Homo sapiens: one gene and its partner. The protein of the gene in region 1 purifies or fractionates together with the protein of each later gene. This does not show direct contact. Each region holds a gene or a part of one and is shown on either strand. Other genes may lie near its edges.

Region 1 (3,600 bases):
CTCTATCCCCCAAGCCCAGCACAGGGCCTGGCTCTTAACTGGGCTCAAAAACTGTTGAATGAATGAAGTAAGCAAGTGACGGTGTGAAGAGGGGTGTGACGGAGAAGTGCAGGGAACCATGGAAGCATTAATAGGGGACTAGACCTCACCAGATGCTCCAGGCTCAGCCAGGTCCATCACAGCCTGTATCATGCTGCACACAACTGCCTGCCAGGTTCCTTCTGGCTTGTTGGATTGTGAGCACTCCAAGAAGCTACTCTGAGGCCAGGAGGGGAAGCTGTGAAGGTGCAGAGGCCTTAGCAAGTCTTTCCCCACCTCCAGGCTTTGGCTTTCCTCTTATAAAGCAGCTGGTTTTCATAGTGCAGGAATGCAGGGATATTTCAGGCCTGTTAAGCATTCTAAAAACCAGAGCTAGCCCAGGGCCTAGCACTCAGAAGTGTTCAGTGGATATTGACTGAATGAATGAATGGATGAATGAATGGTAGACAGGCAGGCAGGCAGGGCCCAGGACCTGGCAGGGCCATACCACCCCCAGTACAACCCAGAACACCAGCGTCAACGTTCTTTGGCATTCAGTCCTGGTGCCCTCAGCGGACCCAGGTTCTCACATCTCGCAAGACAGCAGCATGAGCAGGCCCTTCCCAGGCAACCAGGGCTCAATGAGGGGCTCCAGCCTTCCCTGGCACTCAACCATCTTACCCAGGGAGGGTCTTGCAAGGTGGGATAACATTAACTGCAGGTATTTACTGAACGCTTACTGCATGCCGGGCACTGTACTCAGCCCTTCTTGTGCCTCCTGCTATTTGATGCTCATACCATCACCAGAAGGTAAGCACTGTAATCAGTCCCACTTTAGAGATGAATTAACTTAAGCAGAGGCAGGCACCTGCACAAGGCCTCAGCCTCAACTGGAGCCCAGATGGGTCTGACCCCCACGCCCAGGCTCTGCGCCACTCTTACTAGACAGCCTCCAGAACGCCGCTAATGGACCTCTCAACTGGAAAGCCCTGCACTTCGAGAGGTGTGTCTGATGGGAAGCAACAGAAGTCAAGTTCCCGGAGGCTGCCCGCCCCCTCATCGGGTCCTCTCTGTTGTGGAATCGTGCCCTGCTCAGGGCGTGGCACCACAAGTACTCAAAAGCCTGGCTTCGGCTTGCACACTCCCAGCAACGGGGAGCTCTTTCTCTTACAAGCAGCCCAAAGCACTGTTCGAAGGAAACAAGACACTCCCTGCACGCTGGAACAGGAGTGCGGCCTCTCTGGGACAGGGGAGGGCGGGGAAGAAGGGCCAAGGTCCAGGCCAGGGATCTTTTCTCGCCTCACACAGATCCTCAACCCATTTCAGCCCACCGGCGCCCCGGGACCCGGGGGAGCGCCCTGGCCGCGCAGCCGCAGAGTGCGCGAGCGAGCGCCTCACAATTTCGCCCAGCTCATCCTCGCACCACTGCGCCTGCGCGGCGCGCGCGCCGGCCGAGCCCCTCCGTGGTTCACTATTTGACAGTTCCCACCCCGGTCCCCCGGCGCCCCCTCCGCGGGCTCGAGCAGGCCGGAGCGCCCGGGACTGAGAGGCCGTCCCTGGGAAGGCGTCCTTGGAGCCGGGACCGCCTTTTACCTGCAGGATATTCGACGTGGGTGAGGGTCACCGGCCGCCATGAAGCGGGGAGCGAGCACTGTCCGTCCGCTGCCATCTTACCCGGAGACCGGGCTTCTTCGAGCAGCCAATGGGGAGCCAGGGGGGCGGTGGTCCTGACCTATCACGCCGGGGAGGCGCCGTGCACCCAATCGGAGGCCAATATAGGTAGCGGCGCAGCCATTCAGCGTGCAGGCCGTGGGGGCTGGCCCGAGCGGCGAATCAGAGAGCGGGGCCCCTGGGAGCCAACGAGCCGCCCCAGCTGGCGCCCAATCTGGGGCGAGCGCAGGTAGGCATCTGGCCAATCAGAGAAGGGGAGGGTTCCAGCACCGAACAGGGAGCATAACAGCCAATCAGAAGGTGAGGCTGCCTCAGCTTGTGGGCAGGGCGGGCCAATCAGGCGCTGGCTTTGGGGGCGTGTTGAACTTTGGTGGGAGCTTTGGTTCGGCTGGGACCTGCGCCCTGAATGAAGGCTTCCCTGGTACCCCCTGCCGATCCGCGGTCTTGGGGACCTGCGCGTCCGATAGCGCGTGCTCGAAGAGGAGAGGCAACCTCAGCTCCAGGGGGTTTGAACCGACCCACTTTCAGTTACGAGTAAACTGAGACCAGAGAGCAGAGGGGGCTTATTTCCCTCTGCCCCATACTGGCCGGCGAAAGGGCAAGTCACACAGAGCAGGCGACCTTTTTGTCAAAAGTGTGTGGGGCGGGGCGCGCAGTAGGCGCCCTAAACGCTGGACTGAACAGAGAAGCTTAATTGATACTTAAGAGTGGAAGCTTAGCTACAGTTAAGGACTCCTTCCTCCTTTCATTCATTTAATAAAGATTTATTGATTCAGTCACGTCTATGCTACTTAATGAGGCGTCTTGGGAGCATTTCAAACAAGAAGTCGGTTTTCCACCTACCCCTCAGTTTTCCCAAGACATTCCTGCGTGAACAGCCACACCTTCCCACCCGCCTTCACCTCTCCTACCCGACTCTGTCTCTGGCTGGATTGGATTACAGTGCAGGTAAGGTGGGCTGGGAGGGCTCAGCCTCTTGTCTCCTGCCGCTAGCATGTGCTGTTTTTGTCTGTTTGTTTGTTTTTTGAGACAGGGTCTTGCTCTGAGGCCCAGGCTGGAGTGCAGTGGAACGATCTTGCTCAGCCTCCTGGGTCCAAGTGATTCTCCTGTCTCAGCCTCCCGAGTAGCTGTGACTACAGGCGCGCACCACCGCATCCGGCTAATTTTTGCATTTTTAGTAGAGACCGGGTCTTACCATGTTGGGCAGGCTGGTCTCGAACTCCTGGCCTCAGGTGATCCACCTGCCTCGGCTCCCAAAATGCTGAGATTACAAGCGTGAGCCGCCATGCCCAGCTAATTTTTTTTTTTTTTTTTTGAGACGGAGTCTCGCTCTGTTGCCCAGGCTGGAGTGCAGTGGCACGCCCGGCTAATTTTCGTACTTTTCGTAGAGACGGGGTTTCACCGTGTTGGTCAGGATGGTCTTGATCTCCTGACCTCGTGATCCGCCCACCTCGGCCTCCCAAAGTGCTGGGATTACAGGTGTGAGCCACCGCCCCTGGCCACCATGTGCTGTTTTGCTGCGTGGGATGTACTGCCTCTCCTGCCCTACTTTGCCCGGCCCAATCTGGTTCAGGTGTCTCCTCGGCTTACAGGTTTCCACAGTCAAGTGAGGGGCCAGTACTGGGCTCTCACGGTTGCATTTCCTGTCCTTTCTCAGCCCTGACCTCACTGGACTGTAATCGGCTCCCTATCCCTCCCAGTCAGCAGCGGCTCTCAGATTCATGGAGTGCTGAGATCAGCCTGTAGAAAACACAGATTCCTGGGTCACAATGGGGCCTGGGTTGATCCAGTAGGTCTGAGTTGGAGCCCAGGTGTCTGCATTCTTATGTGCTCTGGTGGTTCTGATACAGGTGGTTACAGCCACCACTGGAGAAACCCTGGGCAACATGAGGACAGGGCCTGGTACATCCT
Region 2 (3,774 bases), on another chromosome or scaffold:
GTGTTTCATATCCCAGAGACAATTAAACCTGGCCCTTAAATTTAAACAAATAGAAGTTATGGCATATTCTTATAAAAATATGACAATAAATGATGATTTGTTTTTAAAGAATTACTTTACAGTCTTAGAGCTTAGAGATCCCAGGATTCAGAAATACATGTCCCTACAAGTTAGTACAAAGCCTCAATGACTTTGCTGCCAGCCAATCAGTGGCTAGGCTGGTTCAGTCTGAAGGAAAGCATTAGAGGACTTTCTTCAGTCCAGGTGCCCCTGGGAAGGAGGAAAGGCTCAGAGAAGGATGCTGGGAGCCTCCTACATTTACAGGAATTCCTATGAGCTTATCTCAACATAGGCTTCTTTTTAAACTTTGGATATACCATGCATTCTGTTGCTTTCCTCAAAATCATCAGTGCGCTTAAAATCTCGTGGATCTTTGTTGAGATACTTCTTAATATTGTCATCCAGATACCAGGATTCATTCTCATTAAATACCAAAAACAAGAGAGCAAATTCATAATCAACGTCACTTCTTCTTCCCTTTTCATTCAAGACTCCTTTTCGGCATGTAATCAGAGGACCCATCAAACCACTATACGTATCCTGGAAGAAAAAATAAACTGAGTTAAAAGAGCCATTAAGTAATTTAATAATATTTCATTCCACCTGCCACCATTCTAGTGTAGGGTCATAATACCTCACCCTGGACTAGAAATTGATTCTTCTCTCAGCTCTGATTCACCCCACCTCCAGCCCATCCTGTTGACCACCATCACAGTAATCTTTATACTCCCGTATCTAGAAGTCTTCAGTGATTTTCCGTGGCCTACAGAATTAAATACAAACCCTTGCAGGTCTGTGAGCCCTCCATGTGCTCCCCTAATGAAATTTTCTGACTTAGGCTACCCCTTGATTTACTACTGGACCCCATATGATAGCCAAATGGGACTCTCAACATGTCCCAAACACTCCCTCTACTTCCCTATTTTCAGCTGTGCTCATAATGCTCTTTCTTCCTAGACTCTCCCTCCAAAACCTTCTATAGTACTTTAGTTAGCCTGCCACTCCTATAGAATTCACCAGATTCAGAGCTCTATTACAGTTACAAGTGTGGACATATTATTTTCCCACAAAGTTATAAGTTTCTTTAAGACAAGAGTATCTGCATCTCTCATAGTATTTGGTGGGGTCATTTGCACATCACAAGTGCTCAATAAGTATTTGTTGTGATGCATAAATAAATTTGGATTTTCCCATAATTCTCATATGTAAGTTTATTTATTCAAGTGCCTTGTATTTCTATCTCCTGAACTCTAGAACTGTCCAGTATAACTCAAAGACATTAATACAAGCCATCTAATACCTAAGAGGAAGGTTATGATAATCCCTCCCTTTTTTTCTTTAATAGGCAATGCTTACATTTTACATCAAATAACGACTTTAGATTGGACTTTGGTTTATGGCATGTAATTAAAGACTGTGGTTGTTTTACATACACATACCTGGCTCAAATTCAATGTTGAATCTTTGCCTTTTATTTCAAAGTTAGATCATTAATCATTCAAACAATTTTGTAGTTTCAGTTACTATGTTTAGAGTGAACTTTCTTCTCCTGAGCCCTAGTAGCCCTGATAATAATGCATTTAAAATAAACAGATTTCACACATCCAAAACCATACATAAATTGTACTCTAAGTTATATTTATTTTATTGTTGTATATTTACATATCCTCTTTTGCTTCAAACCTTTTATCTTTTTAAGTTCTAAATTTGGTAATTGAAACATTGGGATTTTGTTTTTATTCCCCATACTTTAAGTCAAGGGTCACCAAACTTTTTTTTTTTTTTTTTTTTTTTGGGAAAAAAAAAATCACCAGATAGTAAATATTTTTGACTTTGTGGGCCATATAGTCTCTGTTGCAGCTACTCAAGTCAACCATTGACAATGTAAACGTCCAGCATGTCTAGATTTCGTAAATGGGCCATAGTATGAGACCCTTGCTCTAAATCATTATACGCTTTCACATATACCAACCCAAATTGTGATGACCCAAGTAGTCAACTTTCATCCAAATTATTTTAAGCCTTTTGGTTGCTTTCTCCACCTTACCTTCACAAAGTTTACTGTTGAATAGTAAACCCATGGAATACAATTGGGATCAGAAGGCCCTGGACCGGATCTTTTAGGGATATTCCATCTATAAGTTTTTACTTCTCCTGTAATAAATGAAATGGAAAAAATTTATTAGAATTATCTGTGTTTCAGATGATTTATCTGAAGAAATATAAGCAGGTCTTTATATATTTTCATTAATGTTTATTGCTGGAGAGAATTACTCATTCATTACAAATGTTCTTATTAAACTCCCATCTTGATTTCTACTATTTCAAAATGAAATGGCAGATTTGTCATTTCAGGCTCCAGCCTTCCCTCTAGTTTGCATTTTTCTATTGTCAACTGGTGTGTATTCAGGAAATAAAAACATTTTATACCTCACTGTTTTTCCTCCTTAAATGTTTTATCTCCTTCCCAAGAGCTGTCCTTGAGCACATCTTTGTCATCAAGGACCTCTGCTTTGGCCTCTTATGGGAGTCACCAGGGAGCTTTGTAAGCCCTTGCTGCTCAGGCCTCACCCCAGACAGTGAAATCAGAGAGTCTAGGGTCTAGGACTCTGGTGCCAGTGTTTTTTAAAAGCTTCTCAAGTGGGCAGGTGAGATCTGGTGAGAACCAGAATCAGAGAGACCTAGTTCCAAATCTCAACCCTATGACTTCCTATTTATCCCACATTTGACCAGCTACCTAATGTCACTAACCTTTAGTATCCTTATCTGTAAAGTGGGTTGGTCATCATAGTTTTCTAATTGTTGTGAGGATTAAATGAAATAATGTCATTAAATACACAGGATAATGCTTCATTTTGAAGGCAGTTAATGTGTTAATTTTTATGTTTACTACAGTAGTCCCCCTTTGTCCAGGAGAGATACATTCCAAGACCCCCAGGGGATGCTTGAAACCACAGACAGTGCCATACCTATATATACTATGTGTTTTCCTATACAGACATACCTATAATTAATTTATAAATTAGGCACAGTAAGAGATTGACAATAATTACTAATAATAAAATATGACAATTATAACAGTACACTATAATAAAAGCTATGTGAATGTAGACTCTCACTCTCAAAATATCTTTTTATTGTCTCTAATTGAAGTTATCTCAAAATTTCTTAATATTTTCAGACCAAGATTGATTCAGGTAACTAAAACTAAGGAAAGCAAAACCGTGATAAGGGGGAGCTACTGTAAGAACAGCTATGGAGACAGTAAAAAGATCAGTGGTTGCCAGGGGTTAAGGAAGAGGAAAAAATAAACACCAGAGCACGGAGAATTTTTAGGGCAGTGAAACTATTCTTTATAGGACTAAAATGGTGGATACATGTTGTTGTGCATTTGTCAAAACCCTTAGAGTATACACACCAATACTGAACCCTAATGTAAATTATGGGCTTTAGGGGATAATGATGTATCAATGTAGGTTCATCAATTACAACAAATGTACTACTCTGGTGGGGGATGTTGACAATGGGGTCCCTAATGGAGGTTTCTAATGGAACCCTAGAAATTCCTAAACATTTGGTCATTGGATGAATGATGATCTCATACCAGAGTGACTAGATGATGGCTGAAACACATTGACATTAAGATGAGCTCTTTAAGACACCTCTGAGACCAGAAAAGAGTTGACGCCAATGTTCTTCTTCAAGATGGAGCAG

What was found.
Region 2: the proteins of DOLPP1 (region 1) and HEPHL1 purify together in Homo sapiens (affinity purification with mass spectrometry; 3 studies listed by BioGRID and IntAct, with this or other methods). This does not show direct contact.

Annotation. Positions count from the first base shown.
Region 1 is NC_000009.12:129,079,219-129,082,818, reverse strand, and holds the start of DOLPP1 (dolichyldiphosphatase 1), read right to left. Parts: upstream 1,709-3,600; 5' UTR 1,688-1,708; coding exon 1,612-1,687; intron 1-1,611. UniProt on the Homo sapiens protein: Required for efficient N-glycosylation. Necessary for maintaining optimal levels of dolichol-linked oligosaccharides. Hydrolyzes dolichyl pyrophosphate at a very high rate and dolichyl monophosphate at a much lower rate. Does not act on phosphatidate.
Region 2 is NC_000011.10:94,101,354-94,105,127, reverse strand, and holds part of HEPHL1 (ferroxidase HEPHL1 precursor), read right to left. Parts: intron 2,215-3,774; coding exon 2,108-2,214; intron 601-2,107; coding exon 378-600; intron 1-377. UniProt on the Homo sapiens protein: Is a copper-binding glycoprotein with ferroxidase activity. It oxidizes Fe(2+) to Fe(3+) without releasing radical oxygen species. May be involved in the regulation of intracellular iron content.